4 separate regions of the Homo sapiens genome follow, and all the other regions are reported to be linked to region 2. Evidence: microRNA targets listed by miRTarBase, many of them from high-throughput screens and not tested one by one. Region 2 holds a microRNA gene; each other region holds the end of a gene's coding sequence.

Region 1 (7,638 bases), not on the chromosome of region 2:
CATGTCTGAGACTACTTTGGGTTTATTTACTGTTGGAACTGATGCACTTAAACAAAAGAAGGATTGGGGGAATTGGAGAGAGTGTAGCAATGATGGTCCTTGGTTCTGGAATGATAGATGTTGGAAGAGAAGTGTGTGCCTATAGTAGAAGTTTGCCCTGTCTAGCACCCAGAGATGAAAGTATTTCAAGAAGGAAGTGGTGTGGTCAGCATTGTCAAATCTAAGGTCAAGGACCAGGAAGATGGAGAGGATGCCATTCAATTAACAACAAATGAGTACATTCAACCAGTTTGTCAGAACAAATTCTGTGCATTGAGAAAGTGGGCATGAGGTAAGTGTAGTTTAAAGAGGAGGTAGATTTTAGGAAGCAAAAATAGCTTTGTAAACTCTAGAGTGTGGCAAGAAGAGGAAGGAAAGATAAAATAGAGGAGGTTGGAAATAGGATAAAAAGCTAAAAGGAGGACCAAACTAAAGTACAATTTTTGTTGCTGTTTTTCCAAAATATGGTGCATCTGTATATATAGTCATGCACCCTATAATGATGTTTTGGTCAGTGATAGACCACATATATGACAGTGGTCCTATAAAATTAAAATACTATATGTTTACAATAACTGTTCTATTTTTAGATATGTTTCAGTACAAAAGTTCTTACTATTGGGTTATGGTTACCTACAGAATTTAGTACAGTAACATGCTGTATAGGTGTGTAGCCTGGGAGCAACAGGTTGTATGGCACAGAGCCTAGGTGCATACTAGGCTATACCATCTAGGTTTGTGTAAGTACACTCTGATGTTCACACAATGATGAAATCACCTGACACATTTCTCAGAATGTATCCCTGTCATTAAATGATGCATGATTGCATTTAAAAGCAGAGGAAAAGAGAAATAAGCGGTGAATTCTAAATAGAAGTCTTAAGTTTGGGGTTGAGGTTCTTGAGGTGTTAGGAAAGGACAAAAGCATGGGGTATAGATGAATTAGCTGAAGTGGGAGAAATTGTTTTCCTTTCAAGACCACGATGAAGGGTGAACCAAATATAACGAATTATTGAAGGCAAATCTTAATAGAAGGCACTGTTACTGACATTTGGAAGAGCATAATTAGAACCTTAAAAAAGGTTTTTTAATTAAAAAAAAACTGTTCATTAAAAAAATCACAGATAATACCAATTATCCATGTATTCATTTAAGTAAAAATATGTTAAGTATTTCTTTGTCAAATAGTCTAATATATATATCTTTGTCAAGCAAAAGCATGGATTTATAATATTTGTCAATAAAGACACGTCATCTAGGATTGACATAAGATTTAATTTATATACTTTGATAATTGTATGGAAAATGTATCATTAGTATAGATATTAACTCAATTTCATTTTAAAAAGAGGTAAAGCAATTTTGTTTTAAAAATAGGAAAATAATAGATGAGTTTGGTTTTGAGAGAAATGTTCTGTTTTTCTTTTATAGTTCAGCTACCTTGATCTAAATTATTGGTTTTAGTATTGATTAGCGTTTTGATTCAGTGGATTGGAGATCACAAACTTCAGTGTGTGGCTTCATTTGACTCCTACTTTTCCCATTTGCTAACATTGCCAACCCTGGGTTTCCTCTGTAACATTGGAAGGATTCTGATCTCAGTGTTGTAAAGATTAATTAAGAGAATGGATATTAAGTTAGTTTCTAGTTTGCTATTAGGTAACTACTGTTCATTTATCAGTTTGGAGTTAAACAATCTCTTCATCTATTATTTTTGTGTACTGTTTCCTATCAGTAGTTTAAAAGTAATGAATCTAGTCACAGGAGAAAAGTATGGGACAACCACCCCAAAACAACCATTTATTTACCTCATTGCCATCTTTTTTCTATTTGTGTCTTCTTTTACGTTATTAGACTCATACTTAACAAAACTCTGAATTGAAAAAAATTTAATATTGTAACATAGTTTTTTATGTCTGCAAAAGCTTGTCATAGATAATAGTTAATACTTATAACAGTTCTTCATTTTATTGCAACTTAATGTGTACAACCATTTCTCTCTTGCTCAACTTTTAGTTTCTTTTCCCACAGTGAACATCGTTTTCTATATTTTGGGTTATGTTCAATTACCAGTTGTTCAGTGATAACTGATGTTACTGATAAGAAATTTTATTGCCTTCAAAAGTTTTACATACTTACATTTTATAATATTTATGTAACATGTGTATACTTTGTTTTAATAACTACAATATATATTTTGTTGAATATCCTGCCATTTTTCATTTATATCATGAGCATTTTATCCTATTATAAAATGGTTTTATTTCCTCCATTTCCTGGTGATGAGAATTATGAAATCATTTTTTAAAGGAAAATTTTAAATATTTCATCATACAAATGTCTTGTAATTTATTTTTTTCTGTATTTTTAGACAAAAATTATTTTCCTATTAAAAGTACTTTAATGAACAGTTTTGTATGTAAGTCTATGTTTATGTCTGATTTTCTTTTTTGGGATACATTTCTAGAAGTAGAAAAAAGGATGCAGAGTATTGATATTTTAAATATTTTTGATACGTATTGCCAGATATATTTTTGACATATGTTGCTTTCTGTGGGCACTCATTGCATAATTATAAAGCTTTTTTAAAGTGTCAGACAGCGTTCTGGGTGCTAGAGATATAACTGAACCAAAAGAGCACAGATGTATTAGCTGGGTGTGGTGGCACACGCCTGTAGTCCCTGCTGCTGGGGAAGCTGAGGTGGGGAGATCGCTTGAGCCCAGGAGGTCACGGCTGCCATTGATTGTGCCATTGCACTCCAGCCTGGGTGACAGAGTGAGACCCTGTCTAAAAAAGAGGAAAGACAAAAAAAGCACAGATGTATTGTGTATGAGAATATGGCTTCACTGCAGCAGCCCAAGCACTGAATATTATTGATTTTTAAATCTTTGTTATTTAGCTAAATGAAAAATGCTCTCTTTTAGTTTGCTGTTCATAGTTTGCTGCTCATAGCTTCTTAGTTCAGAATTTAATCAAATGATTTTGTTTTCTTTATAGATTGTGCCAAGGACTTGAATGGATGATGTCACGACTTAAGATTAGATGATCTCTACTGACCTCTTCTCATAGATTTTGTATAAATGAAGTGCTGGACTTTACCTGAAAGCTGCAAAAATTAATGGTTTAGATATATTTATAATAAACTGATTTAAACTTTTTCTATAAGAAGAAAAATTAAGACCACTTATTTGAAAACAAAGATGAAGTCTCACCTTCCAGTTTGCTTTCTCATTAGTTTTTTCCAAAGTAAGTTATTGAAGCTGTGATTGACATTTTTCTCATAATGAATCCTCTCAGGACATTGTGTAGCCTATGGTAAGTACAAAGGGAGAGGAAGACATTTTGAATTTTAAGAGCTTTATTATCAGTTTAACCCTCCCTAGTTGAATGTTATTTTCTTCTTGTTCCATTAAGTCAGAATACAAATCAGCACAGATATTCGAATGTTTCCAATATTTTAAAATGTAATGTTACTTATGAAAAGTATTTTGCTTAAGGTTGTGTGTGTATTGTGTATATACCTCAAGTTCAAGTTAATGGCATTGATTTATGTTCCAGACAAAAATAACACAAATAATAATATCCTTCGTTATAACCACAATGAGATAAGTATTGGCATTAGTGTTCAGTGCCATTTTATACTTTCTCTCTGTGTTCTCTGTATTGTACTAACCAACCTCCCAAATCGCTGAGCTGCTTGTTTAAAAAAAAAAAAAAGGAAAAGGAAAAAGCATGACATTGTGTATCGATTTTTTGTTGTTGACCAAAATCACACACATGGAAACATGTAATTCAACAGAGTGGGAAAGCTAGCAGATTCTTGGCTTAGTATTACTAATAGGCAGGATTGTACAATGAGCAACTATCAGATTATTCCTTTCAGTGGTTCTTATGGCATCTAAATTACTGAATAAATTATTAATCCATTAATCAGTGAATCAAATTATGATTACAATTATCAAATGAATGCTCAGCATTAATTGAAAACTGTTTTGTGAAACATGTCTACCCAGAAAAGTAGCATTCTATAAATACTATTAAACAACTTAGCTATATTATTTTTAAGTATTAAATTATATGTCAAGCAGTTAAAGTGAATTTCAGAGTAAAAGTAAGGCATGTTTCTGAGCAACATTGATAATTTCTTAATTTGCAAATTTCTTCTTATTTTGGTACTTGGAATATAGTGTGAGATTTTTTATTTCTAAATTTTGTTGTATCTTCTATTACATAAATGCATTGACAATTATAAAATGCAAGTGTTTTTTGAATGATTTTAAGAATTTGGCTTAAAAATTGATTGATACAACGTATTATTTGTACTAAGAAGTAACTTGACCCAAAACACCTTTTATGTTTGCTTAGGGTATATTTTTTCAGTGTCTGAAAGTCAAAGGTATTCCTGTCACAACTGTAAACAAACTTATCCTAAATGTGTTAAAACATATTCTTGGGTACTCTATTTATGTATCTTTCATGCCTTGAAAATCTGAAGGTTAATCCAAACTCACATGTTTTAGCATATTTGAGAAAAAAAAACTACCTTCAATATCAGCCTTTTAAATTTCATGAAGATTTTGGTGAGGAATAATAGTATATAGTTTAAGTATTGACAAAACTTTGAAAGTTTCTTTCTTTAAAATGGGAAATACTCAATATCTAAATCCAGGTCAGGCATGGGATATCAGTATTTAACATTGGATGTTTTATGTTTTATATTTATAATGTTCAAAATGCAAGCATAACATTTAATATTTGTCCACATGGTTTTACAAAAGTAAATCTTAAATTACTAAGCTTTTCCCATATGTTCTCGTACTTTCTCAAATCCCTATAAAGAATTACTTGTTATCTATTAAAAATCTCCTTTACCCAAATCTGTATTATGGTTTCGCCAGACAAATATTATGTGATGTAGCCCAGAAAATCCACACCTTTTGTCCTTTTTATGTTTTAATTTGAATAATCATGTGCTTAGTCCCTTGGATTACTGCCACATCAGTTTAACACGATATCAGCACATTCCCTTGTCATCATCAAGGTGTTGGCTCAGATTTATTCTTAATTGGATGTTTAAAGCATGTACTACCTTGTTACAGTTGGTTTAGTGTAGTGGATTATTGACATGACATCATGAGAAGATGTGTAATTTTATACCACATTTATAAAACATGATTTTGTTTTCTACCCTTCAAGGTAAACATTAAAAATAAGGTGGTACTTGTGTACTTGTACATAAAACCAAAATTATAGTTGGGAAAAAAATAAATTTATATATGAAAATGTCAAAATCATTTTAAAAGTATTATTTTCAAATAAAATGGAGAAGCTGGTGAAAAGTCATATTGGCAATTTTTATGTAGTTTAAGTGGAATTAAGCAGAGGGAGATGCTTTTGGGTTTTTAATATGCCACTTCTGAGTGAAAACATCTCGTGGAGTCATTGTGTTCAGCTCTGAGAAGAACAAAGATTCATAGTTCTGTACATGTGGCTGGATTTAAATATCCTGTTTTTGATACTAATTTTGAAAGTCATGTAACTTCTTTTGATATCTGGGCAAAAGTAACCATATGCTATAAGCATTTGAATATGTTTAATTTTATCATAATAGCATCTGTAAAAGTACATCTTACACATTATATAGAGGGTTCTTGTTTGAAATTTTCAGTTCTCTTTATCTTCCCAGTACCTCTTGGTCCTCATAATGGGCAAAGGATACAACGAAGGCAGGTTGTATAGGGGTTATAGTGGGGAAGTGGATAGGGGATTCATTTTCTTATGTGACATTTTGCCTTAAGAATATAAAAGTGCTTTAGCACTGATGGCTGGCATTTTTAATATAGGCAGTGAAAGTGACTTTAGAAGCATGGGATGAAATAGAGGGAAGAAGAGTTTTTATTTTCTGGCCTTTAAAAAGTGCCTAGTAGGTCATTTGAGACCCAGAGAAATGCACAGAGCTTGAGCAAAGGCATGAAGTCCCTGACATTGTTTTCCTTTTTGTCTCAGCATATAGTATTAAGATGCCTAGAAATAGGACTCTATTGTTCCCTCTTGTATAGGCACTTTACATTTCTTGTCACTACAGCAACCACATACAGTACAGACAACCTCCAAACCTGTTTATATTAGTGTAAATAGAAAATCTATAGACAACTTTCTAGTTTTCTCTGGAGGCATTTTTGGGAATGTACGTGTAATAGGCTCTGCTTTGTATACAGGAGATAATACCACATCATCGGTTATCTCCAAACTCCAGTCTTCTCTCAACTGCCCAGTTGTATGTTGTCATCAATCACTTTTTCAAGGCTGGGTAGAGACAAGTTTCTCCTCGTAACTTTGACCTCTCCCACTCTCCAAATGTAATCTGGACCTCATTGCTTTCAAGGTCAGCTTCCCCATAGCTCAGGTATCCTTTGCTCTCCTGTATCTTCATTTACTATTAGTGAAGAGATCTCTGTCCTGGAGGTTATTCTAAACTTTCTTTGTAACTATTGTTATAGACAATGGTTTCCAAACCAGTGGTTTCTATGTAGCTTTTCTAGTTCCTTGCTATCTTCTCACCACTGGCTTGAGGTAGTGATTTGGACTTTGCTCATTAGAGAGCATTATCAGAGATGTGGAGTCCATCAGAAGACCAGCTTGCAGTGTGTATAGCATATAGATGCCAATATTAGAATTCTTTAAATTATATTTAACATTTTCATGCTTCTTAATTTAACTTCACATGTTGGGAAGTAGATTCAGAAAGATAGGAGAAATACCCAGACTCTACCACTTCCGTGAGCTACTAGTTAGGCATGGGCAGGATTAAGTTTTATGTGTATTATCTTCCCACTACCAAGAATGGTTATGTTTCACAGAATACCAGTTCAGTTTGATTTGGAAAAAGATGCCAAACCAAATTTATATGTAGTCTATAATCTAAGGGCATTCTTGAAACTATTGCCCACATCCCATTTTTTTTTTCATGTTTACTTACAAAACAGAGATAAACATTAGATGTCTAAAGGAGTTAGTAATGAAAAGCCTATCCTTAAAAAATAAACCTGTTGAAATGGGCTTTAAAGACATCGAAATAATCACTTGTCATGCATTGACTGTAAATGCAGATAGAGAAATATGTCTTTGAAGCTCCACTTACACAAAAATAAAACTTGTATATCATGCTCCCTCAAAGAATGTGCGATAGATTATTTTAAGACCATGATAATAGAGTAAAAAGGAAAGAAAGCCAGAAATTACAATTTTGGATGCTAAAAAGTAACTTTCTAGTTAACCCTAAAGTCCTGTCAGATTGTGAAGAAATGTTCCAGGATACACTTGGATTAGTTATGCAGTATTTCTTATCAATGTCTAGCCCTTGTGTATTGTTCTGAAAACTAAAGTTTAAATCTTTATGCTGTTGCTTGCTAGATATCCTGTTCTTTGGTAGAAAATTCCCATAGTCTGTACTCAAGAAGTGCCTAAAAATGGATTTGTGTTGATTTTAAGCCCATCTAATAAATTATATGTATTTTCTATGGTATCGTATGGCTTGTCTTAACTGATGACACAGCCTAGAGGATTTCTGTCACAATTTGTGCTTTATTTGAATACAA
Region 2 (7,638 bases):
CAACAACCTTGCAAGATATAGATGTATCACCAATTTATAGATGGGGCGGTCAAGTGACTTGTCTGTGGTCACACAGCTAATTAGTGATAGCAAACTTAGCAACATATACCTTCTTTTGAGTAGTGATGTTTATTTTCCTTTCATGAGGGCCTGATGAAGTGTAAATCCTTTCTCTAGAAAAACACTGACAAGGGCCGGGCGCAGTGGCTCACGCCTGTAATCCCAGCACTTTGGGAGGCCGAGATGGGTGGATCACAAGGTCAGGAGATCTAGACCATTCTCACTAACACGGTGAAACCCCGTCTCTACTAAAAATACAAAAAATTAGCCAGGCGTGGTGGTGGGTGCCTGTAGTCCCAGCTACTCGGGAGGCTGAGGCAGGAGAATGATGTGAACCCGAGAGGCAGAGCTTGCAGTGACCAGAGATCGCGCCACTGCACTCCAGCCTGGGCAACAGAGCGAGACTCCGTCTCAAAAAAAAAAAAAAAGAAAAGAAAAACACTGACAAGTACAATTTTGATACAACTACAAGGGTGTTTTACAACTAAACCAGTGGTTCTTAACCCTGTTTTATAATAGGAACACCTAGAGAGCTTTAAAAAAAATCACGAATGCTAGGACCCCCATCCCAGACCAAATAAACTGGCATCTAGGGATGTGGATCCCAGGCAAGTTTTGTTTTGTTTTGTTTTGTTTTTGAGACATCGTTTAAAGTTAAACCATGGATTCTTAAGCCAGGGCTTCTTAAAAGAAGATTAAGTCTTAATCAATAAGTCTCAATTAAAAACAAAAACAAAAAACAAAAAAAACCTGCCTGGGACCCACACCCCTAGATGCTAATTTATTTTGCCTGCGATGGGGATCCTAGCATCTGTAATTTTTAAAAGCTCCGTAGGTGTTCCTATTATGAAACAGGGTTGAAAACCACAGGTTTAGTTAGGTTGGATGACCTATAAAGTCCATCTCAGTTCTTATAATACAGTAACATACAACAGCAAATCCATTCTTTCTGATCTTTCTTACACAGTAGTTTGGTTTTGTGCCAATGAATGAGTCATGGGAACACTCCTTCATCCATCACCACACATACCGACAACTGGAGGCCAGCCTCTATGTATATATGTTTGGACATTTCACTTGGATTCTATGGACTGCTTCCTTATTGTTAAATTGAATTCAATTCCACCAGTATCTATCAGGGACCTATTATGCACCAGATGCTACATGAAACTGGGATATAAAGAAAAGCAACAATCATCTCATGCTATAGAAAAGTCGTAATTTAGTAATCTAGATTGCTCTCTTTAGTGCTTTCTTATTTTAAAAGTCGCGTGATTTTTCATAAAAGAACTCTGCGGCTTGCACCCAGCTTTGTTGGGAATCCATGTTCTTTCTTGAGGTGATATAAAATGTAAGTTGGAGGTAAGTACTGTGTGAGTTAAGACACAGGCTCAATTGCTGCAAGAAGTTCTCTTTAGCATAAGAGTCTGTGTGTGGCTGTGTGTGGTCAGTTGGGGAATGATATGGTGTCTCCAAAGTGTCAGAGACCCAAGCACCTCTTATCTGATTACTATACCATTCTTATTTGATTACTCTACCACCCTCAAATGGTGGCATCCATTCTTTAGTTTAAGAGGGCTGCTTCAGTTATTACCAACACATCTGTATTCCAAGCAGTGAGAAGGGAAAGACAGGATCTTTCTCCTTAGGAGAATGACCTAAAAATTGTACATTCACTTCTGTTTACATCCCATTGACCAGGACTTAGCCTGTTGGCACACCTACCTTCAATGAGGCTAGTAAATGTGGTCCTTAGAATAATTGGATATCTAAGTCCTCTCAATGTTGTTTTCTTATAGTAACCCCTTATTTGTCCTTTTCTACTTTCTTCCTTTAAAAATCACTGATAAATATGTAATTGAAAAAGTCTCTTTTTAGTCAATATTAAATGATGCTGATAGTGGCGGGGCACAGTGGCTCATGCCTGTAATCCCAGCACTCTGAGATGCTGAGGTGGGTGGATTGCTTGAGTCCAGGAGTTCGAGACCAGCCTGGGCAACATAGCAAAACTCCATCTTTACTAAAAATACAAAAAATTAGCCAGGCGTGGTGGTGTGCGCCTGTAATCCCAGGTATTCAGGAGGCTGAGGTGGGAGAATCACCTGAGCCCAGGACATCAAGGCTTCAGTGAGCCGAGATCACACAACTATTACAGCCTAGGTGACAGAGTGAGACCCTGTCCAAAAAAAAAAAAAAAAGAAGATGGTGATAGAAAAACTGCAGGAAAAAACAAAAAAACTCCATAGAATCATTGCCTATCAGCTGTTTGATAAACACTTTAAGCTTGTAGCATTCTTCAACTATTGACTTCCGGTTCTACCTCTTTCTCTAATTAGCAGTGTGATTTCAAATATGTCACTTGACATTTATGCTTGGTTTTCTGCAAAAAGAAAAAAAGTAATATTTAACTGTCGGGGTTGTTCATGTGATTGAATGAATTTATGGATGTAAAAGTGTTTTGAAAACTAGAAAGCACAGTGCATATGCACAATGGATGGTATTGTTTTGTTGTTACTGCACACTGCACAATGCCCTGTATTGAGGCACAGCTTTCCACTGACAGAATCTTGAGGTGTTACAGTTCTGGAGCAGTTACCTTGGTCCTATTTCTAGACTCCAGGGGCAACCTGGTGCTTCACTACCAGACTCTTCCAGCTGGGGATGGGTTCCCTGGCCAACTGCAGATCCAGAAGGCAGGTCAGGTTACTACCTATATTTCTTAACTGCCTGTTAAATAAGCAAGGAGTCCTTTTGGTTTTTCTTAGTGTATGTATGTATGTATGTATTTATTTTTGGAGACGGAGTTTCATTCTTGTTGCCCAGGCTGGAGTGCAATGGCACGGTCTCAGCTCACTGCAACCTCTGCCTCCTGGGTTCAAGCAATTCTCCTGCCTCAGCCTCCCAAGTAGCTGGGATTACAGGCATGCATCACCACGCCTGGCTAATTTTTGTATTTTTTTCAGTAGAGATGGGGTTTCACCATGTTAGCCAGGCTGGTCTCGAACTCCTGATGTCAGGTGATCTGCCCATCTCAGCCTCCCAAAGTGCTGGGTTTACAGGCGTGAGCCACCATGCCTGGCCCCTTAGTTTTTTAATATTAATATTCATTGGAGGTACTGTCAGCAAAAATCCAGAATTACAAGTTAATTTTTCCCAAACTCACACAGTAGAGGTCCCTGTACCTTCACTGAATTGCAAGTTCACTTTCTACCCTGAGTTACTCATGTCTTCAGTTTTGCTTTTCTTTGTTCTTTCTTTCTTGTTCATTCATTCATCAAGCACTTTATTGAGTCCCTACTATGTTCCAGGCACTGGGTATCGTAGGTGCCTGGAACATAGTAGGGACTCAATAAAGGAGCTATGCTTCCTTTATGTGAATTAAATGTCACTGATGTAGCTGGCATTTAGTAGGCTTTCAGTAGGTGTTGGTTTTCTTTGTCTGCCCCTCATTTTGCTTAATTAACCTACCAAATGCATCTTTGACTCTAGTGTGTCCAGAAGAAATGGACAGTGTTGATGCTCTAAACATCCCCAGCGTAGATTGTTTTTCAATGTGCACAACACAGATAAGTCACTTCAAAGTCCATAGATAAAGGGGCTTCTTGCTGATTTCATCAGAATGAGTAGAAATTGCAAGATAATTTTTGTTTTGCCTCCCACCCCCAGCTTCATGTACAGATCACACTGACAGAGTATCTTCAGCTTTTATCTTTCCTCCCTTCCTTGATCTGCCCTTCATCAAAGCATTTTAGTTGTAAAGTTAAATAGGGAAGAATGAGGAACGAGGCATAAATCATCCTAACTTCTTGCCACCCTCCAACCTTATATTCTCAAAAGACATCATTGGACTGCACCATTGTTTTGGTAACAATACACCAGTTTTAAAGTATTTTCTTGTTACCTTTCTCCTTTTTGATATTCATCTAATTTTCCTTTCTTTTGTAGGCTGTCAGCCAGATGAAACAGCAAAAATATCCAACAAAAGTCTCCTTCAGTTCACAAGAGATACCATTAGCACCAGCTTCATCATACCATTCAACAGATGCAGACTTCACAGGCTATGGTATGATTCTTTCTCTCAGCAGATCTGGCTCATTAAGCCTTAGAGAAGGCAAGGGATCATAATGTCCTAAAACGAGAACTGGACCAGGAGGCAGAAGTCTGACTCTGGATACTTCCTCCGCTTCCTTAGCTTTGGGGCTTGGATAGGTCACTTCATTTCCTACATCATTTTTCCTCCTCTCTGCCATCGCCATTGCCTGTTGCTTTTTGAATATAAGAGCACTAGAACAGAACAGGACCTCAGTAGGTCAGGAGTTCAAGACCAGCCTGGCCAACATGGTGAAACCCTGTCTCTACTAAAAATACGAAAAATTAGCCAGGCATGGTGGCGCATGCCTGTAATCCCAGCTACTCGGGAGGCTGAGGCAGGAGAATCGCCTGAACCCAGGAGGCAGAAGTTGCAGTAAGCTGAGATTGCACCACTGCACTCCAGCCTGGGTGACAGAGTGAGACTCTGTCTCAAAAAAAAAAAAAAGGAAAAGAAAAGGACCTCAGTAAATGTTATTTGAATCTGAGGCTTCTGTATTATTCTTCTCTAATCTCTACAAAAGATTATATTTAGGTCTTGAGTAATATCTCTTTAAAAATCCTATCAAACCCAATTTTTAGCCCTGCAAATGTTGCTTTAAGCTGTTTGAAGAATGTTGATTTTCAATGCTTAAAGAAATTGGCATGCACATTCTGTCTTTAAATTCCTGGCTTGAATTATGCTGACTGGGGGTTGAAAATAGAACTTTATAAAGAATAATAGGTATTTCTACTTGCTTTTTTTTCTTTTTTTTTGAGACAGAGTCTCATTCTGTCACCCAGGCTGGAGGGCAGGGGGCTGATCTCAGCTCACTGCAACCTCTGCCTCCTGGGTTCAAGTGATTCTCCTGCCTCGGCCTCCTGAGTAGCTGGGATTACAGGTGCTCACCACCATGCCCGGCTAATTTTTACATTTTTAGTAGAGATGGGGTTTCACCATGTTGGCCAGGCTGGTCTCAAACTCTTGACCTCAAGTGATCTGCCTGCCTCGGCCTCCAAAAGTGCTGGGATTACAGACGTGAGCCACTGTGCCCAGCCCTACTTTGCTTTTGTGCAGTATACATCAGTAAAAAATAAAACTCTTTAAAAGACAGTACTCACCAATGGCAAAGCATAACCCTGCATTAATTTAGCAGTTCTGAAATCTTTGTGGTATTTGCCTTTTATATATTTTTTCATAAATATTAACTTCATAAAGTTCATCAAGCAGGTACTATTTTAAAGCATTGTAGATGTACTAAAACATTTGATGCATGTGGTCAGAAAACTATGGCGCATGGGTCAAATCTGGCCTACCAGCTAGTTGTGTATGGTCTACAAGCTAAAAAAGGTGTTCACTTTTTAAAGGTTGAAAAAACACCTAAGAAAATTTTATTAAAATATTCTATGAAATTCATATTTCAGTGTCCACAAATACAGGTTTATAGACACTCATTTGTTTCTGTATTGTCAGTGGCTTTTTTCACACTATAATGATGGAGTTAAGTAGTCACAACAGAGACAGTCTGGCCTGTAATGCCCTATTAAAATATGTATACTTGGCACTTTACCAACAATGCATGCTGACTATGGAGGTAGACAAGTTGAGTTTTGGTAATATATATCACATATTTATACTTAGATGACAGAAATTCAGCATCCTTCCTGGTTTTCATTCTCATGGTTAAATAATAAATAAACAAATAAATAAATAAATGAAGTTCATCATCCTACAGTTGAATCTATAGAAATTTTATTCATTTACTCATCTACTTACCAAGCATTTATTGAGGACTTGGTATGAGCTGGGTTTGGGGCTGGATTCCATGAGAGAAGTAAATAAAAAGATTGACTCAGGACTGGCTAGGGTGAGGCAAACGTGGAGGAGGGAAAAGAAATGCCATCTCCAGGATGTCTCACCAGGTTTTTTTCTCTCTTCTCACTCAGGAGACTACGCTAGTCATTTACAAAGGCAGTATAAACTTTTTATTTACTTATCTATTTATTTATTTGAGATGGAGTTTTGCTCTTGTTGCCCAGGCTGGAGTGCAATGGTGTGATCTCGGCTCACTGCAACCTCTGCCTCCTGGGTTCAAGTGATTCTCCTGCCTTAGCCTTCCTAGTAGTTGGGATTACAGGCATGTGCCACCATGCCTGGCTAATTTTGTATTTTTAGTAGAGACAGGGTTTCACCATGTTGGTCAGGCTGGTATCAAACTCCTGAACTCAGGTGATCCGCCCACCTCAGCCTCCCAAAGTGCTGAGGTTACAGGCGTGAGCCACCGCACCCGACCTAAAAGCAATAGAAACTTTTTAAAGCACCCATGAAAGTGTGCCACTATCGTACGTCATTTTTATTGTAAATTAATGGGAAATGTGGTATAAAATACATATGCTGCAAAAAGATTTAAAGACAAATTTGGTTTACAATTTAATATTCTGCCTTGCCTGTATCTTACCTAGAGCCTTTCTTTTTGTCTTATTGGCAAGATTTTTCTATAAAGAAGTCGATAGTAAATATTTTAGGCTGTGGTCCACACAGCCTCTGTTGTAGTTTCTCACCCCTGCCATTGTAGTGTGCTAGCCACCATAGGCTGGCCATAGGCTACTTCTAAATATGGCACTTTTTATGGTTGTATCACTGAATTTCTTGCTGTTAACCAGGAGGCCTTTAGATTAATAAATTCCATATGGATGGGAACAAGATATGTGAATACCCACAATGTGCCAGACTCTGGGCCGGGCACCTCACACACACTGTTCATTTAGTTTCTCTAACAGCCTCTTTAATAGTGGTTACATGCATTTTTCTGATGAGAAGTGAGCTCCACTTTCACCCTCCTGTTAAATTCCTGCTTAGGAACTCAACTGTGGCTCTGTGCCACTCCAAAACCTGTGCCTTTTCATCTCAAAGACCATGATTATCACTTAGTTAGAGCAGAACCCCCACAGGCTTACCTAGAGCCTGTTTCTTTTTGTTTTATACCAGAGATTGACAAGCTTTTTCTATAAAGAAGTAGATTGTAAATATTTTAGGCTTATGGGCCACACAACCGCTATTGCAGTTACTCACCCCTGCCATTGTAGTATGCTAGCAGCCATAGGCTAGGCATAAATGAATTAGTGGGTTTGTGTTCCAATACGACTTTATTTATAGACACTGAGATTTAGACTCATATCATTTTCACATGCTTTGAGACATTATTTTTCTTTTGATTTTTTTTCAAGCTTTTGAAAGTGAAAAGCCATTCTTGATCCGCGAGCTATAGTCCGCTGACCCCTGCTTTTACATAGGTTTAATGAGCACTGGGATCTCATCTCAGCTCTGTGCATTAGCTGCAGCTGACCAGCAGATGGAGCCCTCTCTCATCAGCCCTTTCCTGAATTATATCATAATGTAAGAAACAATACTCATGGTGATCAAACTCAGTTATCAGAAAATATGACATTCTCTGGAGACTATGATTTGTATGAGCATCTCTTGAAGCTATTCAACATTTTATATGAGCA
Region 3 (7,584 bases), not on the chromosome of region 2:
CTCTATTAAAAATACAAAAATTAGCCAGGCGTAGCCAGTCATACACGCCTGTGGTCCCGGCTACTCGGGAGGCTGAGGTGGGAGGATCACTTGAGCCCAGTAGGTGGAGGCTGCAGTGAGCTGAGATCGCGCCACTGCACTCCAGCCTGGGCAACAGAGTGAGGCCCTGTCTCAAAAAAAAAAAGAAAAGAAAAGAAAATTTGGTTTCCTGGCAGATAGAGTTTTAACAAGCGCATCAAGCAGTAATAATTTGTGGTCTTGTGCTCAATTCTCACACATGATCTTTGCAAGCGTCCCAGCAGCCATCACAGCTCTACTTTCACATGCATGGGACACAGCACAGAGCAGCAGCCTTGAAAGGACTGCAAAGAGGTGTGAATTCCAAACATTCTCTTAAGTCCTAACATTTCTGTTCTTCATTTTGTGTGACAGAAGCCCATGGAAACAAGGCGATGACGGCGCTTGAGGGTGACCAGACCTCCTCAATCATTCCATCAGCCACCCAGGACTCAACAGCAGAACCTCAGAGGACTCAGCTGAAAGAGGTTTTCACTCGAGCACTAACCACAGAGAAATGGGAAGTGCCATCCTGCTGTCATACGCAGCCGATGGCTGGGTAGGACTAAATGCCCTTCTGTGGTGAGATGAACCAAGACGGCAGATGGGGGAATAACATCAGTGAGAGAGAGATTACGAATGGATCCTTGTATTGCAGATCAAACTGGGTTGTCTCTTCTCAAACCACCCAGGCAGTTTCTGAATGTCCCAAGATAGGGGTAGGAGAAAAGAAAAAAAAGACAAAACAGGAGACGGTGGGTAAGAAAACCTAAAAGGCACAATGAGGCAAAGGCCTAAGATGGAGGCTGGCTTTGGGATCTGAAATCCGGCCACAATCCTCCTTGTTTTACCTCAAGTCCAAGAATTGTCAAAAAGAAAACCCAGAAGGGCTATTCATTCTAAATTTTAAAATCTTTTCTTCCTGGCCTACCAAGTCCTTGTGTTTTCTTTCTAGGCGCCCATAAATACAACCCCATTACAGTTCTATTTGGCTAATAATTTACAGAACATTTAAAATACCGGGTAGGTGAACATCTCTTCATGGCTTTTGTGTAAGGGCCTGAAGCGAAGAGAAAAACAACTGATTGGAGATTCCTATCTGGCGCCTTCTCCAGGGAAACTGACAACCAGAGAAATCTGTTGCTAGGATTTCTAGGACATCTGGAAATTCCCTTTTTGTTCTTTCTCAACAATATAAAATGGTATATTCGCAAACCTATCTGAATCACCTCAATCTAGGCCACTTTGAAAATTTCATTTAAAAATGTAATCACAGATTTTTAAACTAATTACCCAATTTGCAAACAAATCCCAGCTACTTCTGGTCTTGAACATGGAGCAAAGGTGTGTCAGTAAGGCCAACATTCTTAGGTTGACAGAGACAGGTTAACACATTGGCTGGCTTCATTTACCCCCCTGCCACGCCCCACACTGAGCTGGATGATTTGATGGGAAGAGAGGGTCCCCACCTCAGGGTTCACTTCCCCAGCCCCAGCGTTCATGGGTTTTCAGGAGGCTCAGCCTGTGAAAAAGAACCAATGATGATGCACACCCTGGCTGAAGTGACATCTGGCCAAAGGATTCCAACAGAATGAATTCCATCAACATGGAAAAGATAATCCATGGCACCAATTCTGTGCTGCTTACAGGCAATGGTTACCAAATGAGTCAAAACATGGCCTAGAAGTGGAGCCGGGCCCAATGAAAAGCCTGAGTTCACACGTGCTAGGGGCTCCACTGACCGGCCTCTGCAGCCCAGCACCCAGTCCTCTTGCTCTGGGTGCAAGGTGAGGAGGCAGAGTGCACACACCGGCTCCTGTGTCCCCGGCCTGGCTGGCAATGGTAAAATGGGCTGCCTTTCTTTTGCAGCTTCTTCTAATCGAAATACCAAAGGGTACTGACCTCTGGCCTCAGGGATGTGACTTGCAGTGCAAATTTTACCTCTTCAGTGCAGAGAGTGGTCTTGAAATCTTGCCAGTGTGTGGCCCTCCCTCAGCTCCTGCCACCCTGGGGAGCCAGGATGCTGAAATGCATAAGGCAAAAGCACTGAATCGGATCTATTCCCCACTGACCTTTAGTTACGATCACTCTGCCCTGACCAGCTGGAGTTGGGCCTGTGTGAAGCCAGTGATTTCCAACACACTGAAGAAGGTATCTGAGTCCAGTGTGAAAGCCAAATTCCTCCTGAATCTGTGATTTGGTGAAGCTCTGTGAGGTATTTTTTGTGTGTGGAAGACTGAAAGTGAAGGGAAACAACTAAAAAAATTAAACAGACAAAAGCAGTGTACCTTATCCTGGTTTCTTCAAACATAATGCCTGTGCCAAGAATTGGGCAGGAGAGAAACCAACGAAATGAATATAATAACTTATCCTGAGGCGCTCCCTCCCACGCTGGCTTAGAGATCTCGCACACACAAAAACTCTCCTTGTTTATAAGAAGCTGTCTCTCAGTATGCGGGCAGCTCTTCCCAAAAGCCCGTCATTAAATAAGCTAAAAACAGGTGCAAGCGATGTACCTGCATGGGTTCCTGAGACTTGCCTTGCAGAAGCGGCCTTCCAAGTCACCAACTCTTGAGAACTCCAGAGAAAAACAGCGCAAACACGTGGGCAAAAAAAAAAATCCTGGTGCCTGCACCAAGTTCTTCTCCCAAAGTATGTTTTACTCACATAGGGCAAATTTCTGTCGCGGACTCAGCTGCCTTTAGGAGAGTAAGGATTTGAAGGGGTACAGAGAATGCTGTCAGTGTCTAAGGAGGAAACCCTGCCTCACCTATTTCAAATCTTGACTCTGGTTTTCTAAGCAAATTTATCTTAGGATACAAAGCACACATTAGAGCTTCCTTCTTGCCTTAATGCAATTAAATTTGCAGCCATTCTGCAGAAGAACTGAAGCTCTCAGGTGAAAAGAAGCCTTAAATCATGCCATGATATATGTCGGGGGAGGGAACATTTGGGTATAGGTATTTTCCTGAAGGAAGAGAAAGGGTTGAATGTATTGGCAGCTGAGCTGTCCCTTCAAGGGGATATTGTGAAACAAGCTCAATAAAAACCTCTCCCTCTGAAGCATGAAATGTTCCCAGAGGGGACAGGAGGATTCCTTTGGTGCTATGATGCAACCTCAGGTCATGTGCTCGCACATGCTGGAGCATTTTCCTGAGTAACCTGAGGAAAATGTGGCAACAGAGAAAAGCACTTGGAAAATACACGCAGGAGGCAGGTAGTGTTCACCTCCCTGGTTAAAGGAAAGGCACCCCCCACATGCTCACAGGAACTCTCCCTCCTGCCCCTCCTCTTCCCCTACCCCACTTCCACCCCAGGGGCCACCGGAAGCAGCAGCAGCAACCCCGGCTCCTCATCCCCTGCCGTGATGTCTGCAAGTGGCTCTGGCTAGAAGTGGTGCTGGTGAAGGGCTGTAGATGAGGGTCTCTTCTCCAGCCTCTTCACGTGGCAGGAGTGACAGAACAGGTGGTCCTCCAGCGGATAACAGCGGTGGCCATCTTCATCATTGAGCTCCAGACCACAGTCCTGTGGGGAGGCAGACATGTCCAGGGGAAGCAAAACAAAACAGACTGCAAGACTGACCTGAAGGCCACAGTCCCCAAAATCAGCAGAGGGTGCTGTGTGTTTCTGTATAGGCAGGAAATGCCAGTGCAGAAACACAGCTCCTGCCCCGTGGAGGCCTGTCCAACACAGGAGACACTGCCACAAGGCACTTGCTGTGAACCACTTAAAATGTGCTGTCAGTGTAAATGCAGATTCCGAAGACTTAGGACAAAAAGAGGATGTAAAAATATCTCATGGGAAAAAGGAATGAGATCATGTCCTTTGCAGGGACATGGATGAAGCTGGAAGCCATCATTCTCAGCAAACTAACAAAGGAACAGAAAACTAAACACCACATGTTCTCACTCATAAGTGGGAGTTGAACAATGAGAACACATGGACACAGGGAGGGGAACAACACACACCAGGGCCTGTTGGGAGGTGGGGGTGAGGGGAGGGAACTTAGAGGATGGGACAATAGGTGCAGCAAACCACCCTGGCACACGTACAACATATATCTATGTAATAAATCTTCACACGTATCCCTTTTTTTTTTTTAGAAGAAATAAAATAAATTGTGGAGTTACAAAAAAAATCTCATGGGTAACTTTTTTATATTGATTACATGTTCAAAAGATAACATTTGGATTTTTTTTTCTTTTTTGAGACAGTCTCCCTCTGTTTTCTAGGCTGGAGTGCAGTGGTGCGATCTCAGCTCACTGCAACATCCACCTCCCCCGTTCAAGGAATTCTCCTGTCTCAGCCTCCCAAGTAGCTGGGATTATGCACGCGCCAACACATCTGGCTAATTTTTGTATTTTTAGTAGAGACAGGGTTTCACCATGTTGGCCAGGCTGGTCTTGAACTCCTGACCTCAAGTGATCTGCCCTCCCAAAGTGCTGGGATTACAGGCATGAGCCACCACGCCCAGCAGGATTTTTTACTTTTTTAAGACAGGGTCTTGCTGTGTCACCCAGAGTAGAGTGCAGTGACACGATCCTAGCTTCCTAAGTAGCTGAGACTATAGGCACAGCATGCCTGGCTAATTTTTGTATTTTTAGTAGAGACAGGGTCTCACTGTGTTGTCCATGCTGTTCTCAAACTCCTGGGCTCATGTGATCCCCCTGCCTCGGCCTTCCAAAGTGCTAAGATTACAGGCATGGGCCCATGCCTGGCTGGATATTTTGAACCGAATAAAATAATTAATCTCACCGGTTTCTTTTAACGTTTTAATTGTGACTACCAGAAAACTTAAAATGATACATGACTTTAATTTGTGGCTCTCATAATTCTTTAACGTTTTAATTGTGACTACCAGAAAACTTAAAATGATACATGACTTTAATTTGTGGCTCTCATAGTTCTTTCTTTTTTTGAGACGGAGTCTTGCTCTGTTGCCCAGGCTGGAGTGCAGTAGCATGATCTCAGGTCACTGCAACCTCCACTTCCCAGGTTCAAGCAATTCTCCTGTCTCAGCTTCCCGAGTAGCTGGGACTACAGGCGTGTGCCACCACGCCCACTAATCTTTGTATTTTTAGTAGAGATGGGTTTTTGCCATGTTGGCCAGGCTGGTCTCGAACTCCTGACCTCAAGTAATCTGCCGGCCTTGGCCTCCCAAAGTGCTGAGATTACAGGCGTGAGCTATCGCGCCCGGCCCCTTATATTTCTTTTGGATAGCACTGGTCTAGAAAATGTGGAGAGGCCTGTTGAGCAAATGTCCTCACCTTTTTCTCCTGCAGTGACCTGGGGCACCTGGGGTCCCAGCAGCAATGATTCCCACCCATTTCTTCAGTGTTGGCAGTGGGACAAGTCTATATGAGGGACACCCCCATTCTCTACCCACAGGGTCACCAAATGAATCTAATCTCCTTCCATGGGTGAATTCACTTAATTGTGGCTGAAATTCCATGGTCACCCTTCACAAGGGTTGGTGAGGGGCAACCTCTAGCTTTCCTGACAGTCATCAGGTACTAGTGCTCCTTCATCTTGGGTTGGGACAAAGGGCAGGAAGGGGCAGGCGGACCCCACCCGCCTTCACACCACCAGCTGACATGCCTGTTTCCAAGAGGGGCTTCATGATTTCCAGGGCTCAGCTGAGAAAGGAGCTTCAGGCAGATAGAACAGCCTGCAAGCTGGAGGGGAGGGAGTCCCTTCCCCAAATCGCACACCTGCCTGACAATGTGGCCCGCAGATAGGACCTGAAACCCATGCTCTCCACGACCCTCCTAGCTCTGCAGCTTCAGGGAGAGCAGCTCCAACAGTTGCAGGACTTGATAGTTCTGAATATGCAGAAGAAAGACCTTTATACCTTGAGCATTTCCATCTTCTCCTACCTCCCCCAAGAACCAGCCTTCATTCCATTTCCTACAGAAGCTCTAGAGGGCTGACCCTTGCCAGAATCTTGTTGACTGCCTCTTGCCCCAGTCAACGCAGGATGCTTTTCTCTTGGATGTCTACAATGGGCTTTGGGGGCTGGGTGGGGAGGGGTCTACCTCGCAGTGGTAACACTCCACGTGGTAGTCTCTGTCCATGGACACGACACGGATGGTCTCATCTGAGCCCTGGGACCAGAGAAAAGCAAGAACACATAGGAGAGGCCTGTTAGGGGGGCTGTCGGGCTTGATGTACCGTGGGGTGGGGAGGGAAGAGGGTTTTGGGGGTAACAAGTAGGTGGCCTTGGGAGGAGAAGGTAAATCAGGAGTACTTACTGGAAGAAGAATACATTTAAGCTGATGAGAGGGGAAGTAGGAGGGATAGGAGTCCTTCCTTCTAGAATGTCAGAGTTAACACTGAAAGAAAGACCTACATGGACACTTATTTTAAAAAATGAAGAAAAGACAAGCCTTTCTCCTCATCTGCTAATCTAAGAATTAGTATCAAGTAAGGGAGTTTGACCTGGTTATGGGGACAAATCAGCACAAGAAGGGTACTGGGTTGGGGAAGCCAGTCAACAAGGAAGGGTGAAGACACGACTTATCTCAAAGGTGAAGTGGGGTTTTTTTTGGTTTTTTTTTTTTGGAGACAAGGTCTTGCTGTCACCTGCTGGAATGCAGTAGCACCATCATAGCTCGCTGCAGCCTCAAACTCTTGGGCTCAAGCAGCTAGGACTACAGGCACATGCCACCACACTTGGCCAATTTTTAACAATTTTTTGTAGAGATGAGGTCTTGCTATGTTGCCCAGGCTGTTCTTAAACTCCAGGCCTCAAGCAATTTTCCTGCCTGGGCCTCCTAAAAGGGGTGGGATTACAGGCGTGAGCCACTGCACCAGGCCAGAGTTGAGATTTTTAAAAGGATACCTTAAAAGCTGTAAGGACAGGACATGGATCTTGTAAATGAGCCCAGGGAGATATTCATGTCTTAGAAGCCCCTGGGAGCATGTCTGGAAGGGCATCTTACCTCAGGTGGAAGGATGGGAAGCCCACAGGCTGCACACTTGGGGGCCAGCACCCTGTGGGGAGAAACAAAGCAGCAATAAATGTTGCTTCTGGGAGCAAATTCCAGAGTCAGACTTGCACTTGGAATCCACATGGAGCCTTCCTCCATGCCGCCTCCTGCCCCTTGCTCTCCTCCCTCATAGAATGACTGGTACCTGGCTCACTTTGTGGAATATGCCTTAGTATTTGCTCCCCAGCTGCAATGAGGACACTGGCTGCCTCTCACTCTTCTGGGGACAGCACTAACTGATTTGTTTACACCTCTCATGGTGCCTAGCACAGGCCCAGGCAAACCAAGAGTGGTAGGAACCAGCACTGCATAGGGGCCTTGTGAAGTTAGGTAACGCTGAAGCCACAGGGCTTGGTGGATTCCTCCCGAGGCCTAGCTACAAATATGATTATTAGTTTTTCTGTGCTCTGTTGTTTTTTTTTTTTCACTAAACATGATTCTTTAACCCATTCCTGTCAACACTGGCATCGACCAACCTCCCAAGGTCCCTGCTGTACCCCTCAAAACCATTAAGCCTTTGCTGGACTGTGATCTAAGG
Region 4 (7,638 bases), not on the chromosome of region 2:
GAGGGGGAGACTCTGCAGGAGCCTAATTCCCCACTCTGAGCTCACCCTTCTGTCTGCCCGGGCCCTACCCCTTCCCCTACTCTCACCCTTATAATCCTTTTCAGCACTAGGTCTTCCCGTCACCTCCACCTCTCTCCATGACCCGGCTCTGCTTACCCAGACCCGAAGCACGTGAGGATCCGATCCCAGTTCCTCCAAGGGGCCTGGGTGCTGGGGAGGGGTCAGGTAGTCCAGTGCGTCCACCTGTATCCACCTGGGGCCCTAGCTGGGCCCAGCTCCTGGACAGTGTCCTATGGCTGGGGGCACTAGGACTGACAATCCAGGCAGTCTTTTCCACCACTGGCCCAGCCCTGCTGCTGCTTCTGGTCAGCTTCCTCACCTTTGACCTGCTCCATAGGTAAGTGGGCAGCAGCCTGGCAGGTGGGCATTGTAGGCGGGCGGGCCAGTGGACAACTTCCCTAAGCCCAGTCACCACCCTCTCTCTCCACAGGCCCGCAGGTCACACTCTGCCACAGCGCAAACTTCTCACCAGGGGCCAGAGTCAGGGGGCCGGTGAAGGTCCTGGACAGCAGGAGGCTCTACTCCTGCAAATGGGTACAGTCTCAGGACAACTTAGCCTCCAGGACGCACTGCTGCTGCTGCTCATGGGGCTGGGCCCGCTCCTGAGAGCCTGTGGCATGCCCTTGACCCTGCTTGGCCTGGCTTTCTGCCTCCATCCTTGGGCCTGAGAGCCCCTCCCCACAACTCAGTGTCCTTCAAATATACAATGACCACCCTTCTTCATCAGGCCCCCTTTTCTCCTTCCTGGCTGGGCAGGTGGGATGATACCCCTTTCTTCCCAGCCTGAACCTCACAGTCCTATAATATAGGTATCAGATACCTGGATCTGAGTCTTTGGGCAGCAAGAGAAGGTAGGATACTAGCCAGGGAGCCCAAGGAAGAATGTGGCAGCCACCTCAGAGCCTGTGGATTGGGGGCAGCCACTCTGGCCTCCTCTGTGGCTCTAGAGAATGAAGGTCCAGACAGAAAGACTTGCGAGAGAGCAGTTTGGAAAGGGGTGGATATCAGCCAGCAGGGAAAGCAGGAAAGGGACAGGGATCCAGGGAGGGCTTCCCATGAGAAAGCATGAGAAACTACATCTGCGGGGCTCCGAGGCTCCCCTGCCAGCCTGGAGGGTCCGTGCAGAGGGACTTGGGTGGGCCTCACACCCTACAGTGACTCCTCTCTTGGCTGGACCCCACCCCAGCCCGGGTCACAAAGGGGCTCCTCTGGGGAGGGTGGGGGTAGATGAGAGTGGGGACTTGGATCTGCCTGCCAGGCCGTCCTGGGCGCTGCAGGAAGCAACATGACTTAGGTAACTGCCCAGAGGTAAGTCCCAGTCCCTAATTCTGTAGCCCCACCCCACGCACACTGGTGCCCTCCTGACCCCTGCACCCCCTCTCTGCCCCCCCCCCCCAAGGTCCCAGGCATCTTCAAGACCCTGGCCCTCTCCCCAGGTGCACCAGACATGATGCAGCAGCCGCGAGTGGAGACAGATACCATCGGGGCTGGCGAGGGGCCACAGCAGGCAGTGCCCTGGTCAGCCTGGGTCACGAGGCATGGCTGGGTGCGCTGGTGGGTGAGCCACATGCCCCCGAGCTGGATCCAGTGGTGGAGCACCTCGAACTGGCGGCAACCGCTGCAGCGCCTGCTGTGGGGTCTGGAGGGGATACTCTACCTGCTGCTGGCACTGATGTTGTGCCATGCACTCTTCACCACTGGCTCCCACCTGCTGAGCTCCTTGTGGCCTGTCGTGGCCGCGGTGTGGCGCCACCTGCTACCGGCTCTCCTGCTGCTGGTGCTCAGTGCTCTGCCTGCCCTCCTCTTCACGGCCTCCTTCCTGCTGCTCTTCTCCACACTGCTGAGCCTTGTGGGCCTCCTCACCTCCATGACTCACCCAGGCGACACTCAGGATTTGGATCAATAGAAGGGCAACCCCATCCCACTGCCTGTGTCTGTTGAGCCCTGGCCTAGGGCCTGAGACCCCACGGGGAGAGGGAGGGCAATGGGATCAGGGCTCCCTGCCTTGGCAGGGCCCAGACCCCTAGTCCCTAACAGGTAGACTGGCCTGACCCCGGACTCCTTCCTCAAGTCAATGCTGCAGGTTCCTGGTGTGAGGGGCTGGGGGCTTTGAGAAGAGGGGGCAAGACAGATGGCTTAGCCATTGGTGAAAATTGCTTAGCCAGGGGCAGAGCTTGACCAAGCCACTGATAGCGCCCATATGGATGTGATGATACCCGTGGGGCCCCCTTGGCAACTGACAGCATCTTTTTCTCATAGCCACTCAGCTGTCTCAGCTTCAGACTCACTGAGAACTTCTACCTGGGTACCACTGGCCTTGCCATTCCTCCCACCAATCCCCTCTTTCCACTTCCAGGAGAACCACAGACTCTAGAGAGGGTCCCAGTGACAAAAATCTATCAGGGAGAAGGCTGGCCAGAAGCCCCAGGAGACCTCAACTCACTCGCTCTCCAAACCTTGCAGCCCACGCATCCTCCTCCCTAGACTTCCTACTTCCTGCCTCAGTCTGCATCCCCAAGTCTGAGAAATGGGCCAACTGGGGTCAGACAGCACCTACTCACTCTCTAAGAATCCCAAGGTCTGTTATGGAAAAATGATCAAGAAATCCCATTTCACCCACTTACACAATGTGTGGCCTTGGCCAATTAATTCATTTGAGCCTCAATGTTACGTGGGCCACTTCTGTCATGGGGTTGTTGTGAGTCAAAGACAATATCTATTTGTGAAGCATTTTGTAGAAGCCAAAAACCTGTAAGATGTTGTTTTGAGCTCTAAGAACTTTCTGTAGGCGCATAAGATCTTTTGACCCCAAAGACTGTTGAAGGAACAGGAAGCTTCTCTGGGCTTTCAGATCAACTCTCTGTCCTGGATAGAATTTTGGCCCTAAAATGGTAAACAAGAGGTCGGTTAAGTGTGTACAAGATGTAAAAGGTCATGTGCCATGAAATCTCAAAATGTGCAGATGTTGAACTATTTTGATTATGAAATGCTTGGGCCTGGGGCTGGGTGCCAGATGCTTGCACAGCTGTGTGAGTGGGGACAGCACAGCCCCAGGGTTTCCAAAACTGACCCAGCAAGCCGCTCAGGCACCAGAAGGGCTTTGGAAAGGGCAATCCTTTGATGCCCTGAATGCTGGCCGTTCGTTCACTTGCTGGCCCCTCCAACAAAACATTGAGTGATCGGTAATTACCAAGTAAGGTACATGATAGACAACTTTATCCACACCTGACCCCCACCCAAGCCCTGGCCATCCCCAACTCCTGCCCAGTTCTGATCCCTGCTTTATGTATAACCCTAAAATCCTTGCTCTTGAAGCCCCAGACCCAAGGTCCCCCTCTTTTGTCCCATAAATACTCAGGGCCTTGGGGCTAGCCCCTAGAACCCTGGTTCATTTTTGCCTTAGACTTTTGCAACCCTCCATGCCACGGATTAGATGCCTTCAGCATCAGTGCCAAAACCCAAGGTCCAGTCCTTCCTTTCTGTTTCTTTGTATTTCTCCCGCATTATGGCATGGTAGTGAGAGCGAGGTAGGACATGGGGCTGATGTGGTCTCATGGTTGGATGGGTTTTGGTGCATGAGCTGAGGCTGGGCGTGAGTCCCAGCACTCTCACTTACTAACTCCATGCCCTTAGTGGAAATCGCTAAACCTTCCTCAACTTCACTTTCCTCATGGGTAAAACTAAGGCAAGAACCCCTGTCTTAGGGCTCTGGCATGTGAGTGAAGGACCTGGGACCACTCCTAGCACCACAAATTATAGCTATGCTGTGACCATCCCATTTTAGAGATGAGAAGTCAGGCCCAGGATAGCCAGTTGCCAGTGGCAAGGCCAGGCCATCTGAGTCCTACCAGGCTACTCAAGGGAAGGTGAAGGGGGCAAAGGAAACACAAACAACCTAACTAACTGAAGACCCCAAGGCTTCTCAAGAGCTCCTATCAGAGCTAAAGCCCAGGCCTAGGGAAGTCATGAGTCAAGCCAATCTAGATGGCAAGCTGAGGATTCAGGATCCCATGTGGTGAGGGCAGAGACCAGGCTGCCTGGCCTAGATCCATCATTGACTTGGCCATGCATTGCTAGCCAGGGACGTTGCTCTGGAGCCTTGGGTCCATTCCAATGAAGGGAGAGAGGAGTTTGGGGCCCTGACCAGATGCTCTAGTGGATGGGATGTGGGCAGCAGCAAGGAGAAGACCTTCTTCCTTTCCCCACAGACTATATACCTTTTACCCTCCTGCCCAGCTGGTATGGGGTAAGGAGGTGCACCCAGACTAGAGAGCTGATGGGCAATACTCATCAAATTAGATCCACATATACCCTAGGACCCAGAACCCCAGAATGAATTTTCACAGAGGTCCATAAGGGCCTTGCCCCTCAAAATGTAGTCCCAGAATCAGCAACACAGGCATCACCTGGAAGCTGGTTGGAAATACAGTCTCAGGCCCTGCTCCAGACAGGCCGAATCAGAGTCTGCATTTTTTTTTTTTTTTTTTTGAGACAGAGTCTTGCTCTGTTGTCCAGGCTGGAGTGCAGTGGTGCAATCTCGGCTCACTGCGCTCCACCTCCCAGGTCCAAGCAATTCTCCTGCCTCAGCCTCCTGAGTAGCTGGGATTACAGGCGCCTGCCACCGAGTCCGACAAACTTTTGTATTTTTAGTAGAGACAGGGTTTCACCATGTTGGCCAGGCTGGTCTTGAATCCCTGACCTCAGGTGATCTGCCCACCATAGCCTCCCAAAGTGCTGGGATTACAGGCGTGAGCCACCGTGCCTGGCCAAGAGCCTGCATTTTAACAAGATTCCCAGGTGATACATTGTACCCTGTTTGAGAAGTGAAGCATAAGGGGGTATTATGAGAATGCCTATTGCACTGTTACTAGTGGGAGCAGGATAGGTAAAGGGAAGGGTAAAACAAGGCAGATGGGCCCAAGGGGCAGTAATTAGAAGGGGCAGAAGGTACATGAACCAATCTTAAAATCTTAGCATTGAAAAAGAAATGGAATGAGAATACAATTCCTCTTACACAAATTTAAAAGCATGTCAGCAAAACAAGACAATTTTTGGCAAGAACACATAAAAACGAAAGATAAACAGAATGGAATGGACAACTCTAGGGGCAGGCAAGTGGGAGTAGGGTATAGAGATAACAGGCAATAAAGCTAGAGAGCTTGCAGAGGCGAAACGTGATACCATCAACGTAATTCCTGAAATTCCTTTAAAAGTAGAAAAAGAAGTCCATTTAGAGTTAAAAGGCTTAAAAATGCAAGTCTGGGGAGAATGGGCATGGTGGAAGCCCTTCGGTTTGGGCCAAGAAGGGCGAGCCTTCCTATCGGCCTGTGTGTGACCTGGGCTGCTGGGTGGATGTGTTTGCCGGCCCTCCCCCACCGCACCCCGCAGGCTGCTCTCATGGGATTGGACTGTGGGCCGGGGATCCAGCAACAACTTCGGCCTGGCCGGAAAAATAAAGTCAAGGAGAGCATAAGGAACCGGAGCGGAGGCGGTGTCAGCGAGAGGGGCCTTGCGTCTCAGGAGAGGGGGGATCTACAGCGGTGCACACATGTGCTGGGGGATACCTGGGGTAGGGCTTCCCTCCGCCCCTAGGAACAGGGAAGGCGGCGTCAGGGGGCGCAAGCTGCTGAGGGGTACCCCTTCAAGAGATGGAGCGCCAGTGGCCACTCAGGAAAGGAGAGGGGTCCCCGAAAGGAAGAAGCCGTGCGACACCCAGGAACCTCCAAGGGCCAGCTGCGGGACATCGCGAGGGGGGCGCTGTCCTTTAGACTCGTGGGTGCAGAGAAAGGGGGAGGCTAGGAGAGGCCGAGTGGGGCTGGGGGTGGGGGAGGGACAGCCGGCCACAAGGCATGAGGGAGGAGACAGGGTCGTCAGGGAGGGGAAGGACGCCTGTGCGGCGCGCGCTAGACCAAGGCCCGGGGGCAGGGACAAGGCCATCGAAGCCGTGGTCACAGACGCGCCGGGAGGGAGGGGGCCACGTCGGGCGGCATGCGTTGAGGCGACAGGAGCGCCTGGTCAGACAGCAGCTGCTCTGAGGCGGGGGAAGGCGTGGTGGGGGGTCCCCTGCGGTGGGAACCCTGCGAGGACACCCGGGCCCAGGCGCGCGGAGCGGGGCGAGGGCGGCAGCTGGAGGGCGTCGAGGCCGGAGCGATGACCCTCGGGCAGAGGGGGACAGGCCAGGGTCTGAGGCTGGGAGAGAAATCCCAAGCCCGGCCCGGTTGGGAGGCCGTGGGCATCCACACGGGGCATGTGCTGGCGGCCCTGAAGCGCCGATGTCCCCGGACTCGCCGCACGCGGACTGGGGACCGACAGCGCGCAAGGAGAGCCCTCTGGCTCTGGCAACGAAGGGGCGGGCTTGGCGGGGGTGGGAGGAGAGAGCGCGGGGAGGGGTGTCCCACAGGCTAAGACTCCAGCACTCGGGGAGGGGCGGGAGGGTAAGAAGAGGGATCTTAGGGCCACTGTCATCACAGTGGCAGCTTCGTTGACTCTCACCCCTTGCCCCAAATCGCCGGCCTGCCGCCACTTCCCCTCACTAGAGACCCCTAGGCGTCGACGGCAGAGTTCCTGAGAACCCTGGAGAAGGAACGGCCTGATACTGAGCTGGGACTCCGACTCCTGGAACAGCCTGAGCCTGATATTATCCGATGCCCCTGAGGTAAAGAGCTGTCATTTGTGAGGATCTGACAGGGTCTGGATGCAGCCACCTTTGGACAAGTTTTTTGGTTTGTTTGTTTTTGTTTTTTTTCTGCTGAGCATTTTCATCTATATTCTGGAGCTCATACTTGCATCCTTTGTACTGATTCTGTTACCGACCCTCAAGGGGGTATTTGATCCCAGTGGGGTTTTTTCCCTGCTTGGTGCCGTTCATGCCAATAGACTGAGACCAGGTTCGGTTAAGCAGAGCAGAAACTTTATCATTGATCAAGGAATGGAGAAGGGGAGCCTGTGCTCAAAGCACCTTCTTGGGGCGGGGGGGTGGGGGGGTGGGAGTAGGGCGAAGAGGGATTTGTAAGATGTCTTAGGGCAGTAGGCAGAGCCTGGGGGCGGGGATTCCTGGAAAGATAGGGCTTTCCAGGGAGAACTGGAGTGTGTGCAGTCTCTCCTTCACTCCAGCACTGCATGTGCCCCGGCAAAGTGCACCTCCACCCCCAATCCCCCAACCCCCCAGGGCGGAGATTTCAATGTGGTAATGAGGTGAAGATTCAGGTCAGGGTAGCACTGCTGAGCTCCCTTCTCATCTTGTGGCTTGTTTGTGGTTACTGGCTTCCAGCCTCCATTTTTTAAAGCAAGCACAGCTGTGAACACTGGTTAATTTCACAGGTTTTGGGGCTTGCTGAAAGACTTGGGGTTACTCTGCAGTGACAATTCCCTACCTTGAAAATATTTTCCATCTTAAAAGAACTTGATTTGCTCTCCCTCTCCCGTCTCCCTCTCCCTCTCCCGTCTCCCTCTCCCTCTCCCTCTCCCGTCTCCCTCTCCCGTCTCCCTCTCCCGTCTCCCTCTCCCTCTCCCGTCTCCCTCTCCCTCTCCCGTCTCCCTCTCCCTCTCCCGTCTCCCTCTCCCTCTCCCGTCTCCCTC

What was found. Region 2 holds the annotated microRNA hsa-miR-3116 (UGCCUGGAACAUAGUAGGGACU, at 3,350-3,371, opposite strand). A microRNA usually pairs through its seed, bases 2 to 8, with sites in the 3' UTR of a target mRNA and lowers its output. Matches are read on the target gene's strand: a 7mer-m8 pairs with bases 2 to 8, a 7mer-A1 pairs with bases 2 to 7 and ends in A, and an 8mer does both.
Region 1: the mRNA of ARL5A is a reported target of hsa-miR-3116. The part of its 3' UTR that is shown has no 7-base or 8-base seed match.
Region 3: the mRNA of LIMD1 is a reported target of hsa-miR-3116. The part of its 3' UTR that is shown has no 7-base or 8-base seed match.
Region 4: the mRNA of TMEM239 is a reported target of hsa-miR-3116. The part of its 3' UTR that is shown has no 7-base or 8-base seed match.

What each region holds. Positions count from the first base shown.
Region 1 is chr2:151,798,724-151,806,361 of GRCh38, reverse strand. ARL5A (ARF like GTPase 5A) reads left to right here. Exons shown (of 6, transcript NM_012097.4): 6 at 3,038-7,565. The coding sequence ends at 3,086. Among named protein-coding and RNA genes, the nearest start is that of ARL5A, 26 kb to the left of the region's middle.
Region 2 is chr1:62,075,445-62,083,082 of GRCh38, forward strand. It overlaps MIR3116-2 (microRNA 3116-2), which reads right to left and starts at 3,412; the gene lies at 3,345-3,412. PATJ (PATJ crumbs cell polarity complex component) reads left to right here. Exons shown (of 44, transcript NM_001350145.3): 32 at 4,006-4,123. MIR3116-1 (microRNA 3116-1) reads left to right here and starts at 3,342; the gene lies at 3,342-3,415.
Region 3 is chr3:45,672,920-45,680,503 of GRCh38, reverse strand. It overlaps LIMD1 (LIM domain containing 1), which reads right to left. Exons shown (of 8, transcript NM_014240.3): 6 at 6,999-7,050; 7 at 6,093-6,161; 8 at 1-3,582. The coding sequence ends at 3,445. It overlaps LIMD1-AS1 (LIMD1 antisense RNA 1), which reads left to right. Exons shown (of 3, transcript NR_033947.1): 2 at 433-1,458; 3 at 1,573-2,339. Among named protein-coding and RNA genes, the nearest start is that of LIMD1-AS1, 12 kb to the left of the region's middle.
Region 4 is chr20:2,815,048-2,822,685 of GRCh38, forward strand. It overlaps TMEM239 (transmembrane protein 239), which reads left to right and starts at 1,317. Exons shown (of 2, transcript NM_001167670.3): 1 at 1,317-1,368; 2 at 1,497-3,015. The coding sequence starts at 1,508. The coding sequence ends at 1,966. It overlaps C20orf141 (chromosome 20 open reading frame 141), which reads left to right. Exons shown (of 3, transcript NM_001256538.2): 2 at 105-397; 3 at 491-783. The coding sequence starts at 138. The coding sequence ends at 728. RefSeq lists a silencer at 1,814-1,873 and a cis regulatory region at 6,247-6,628.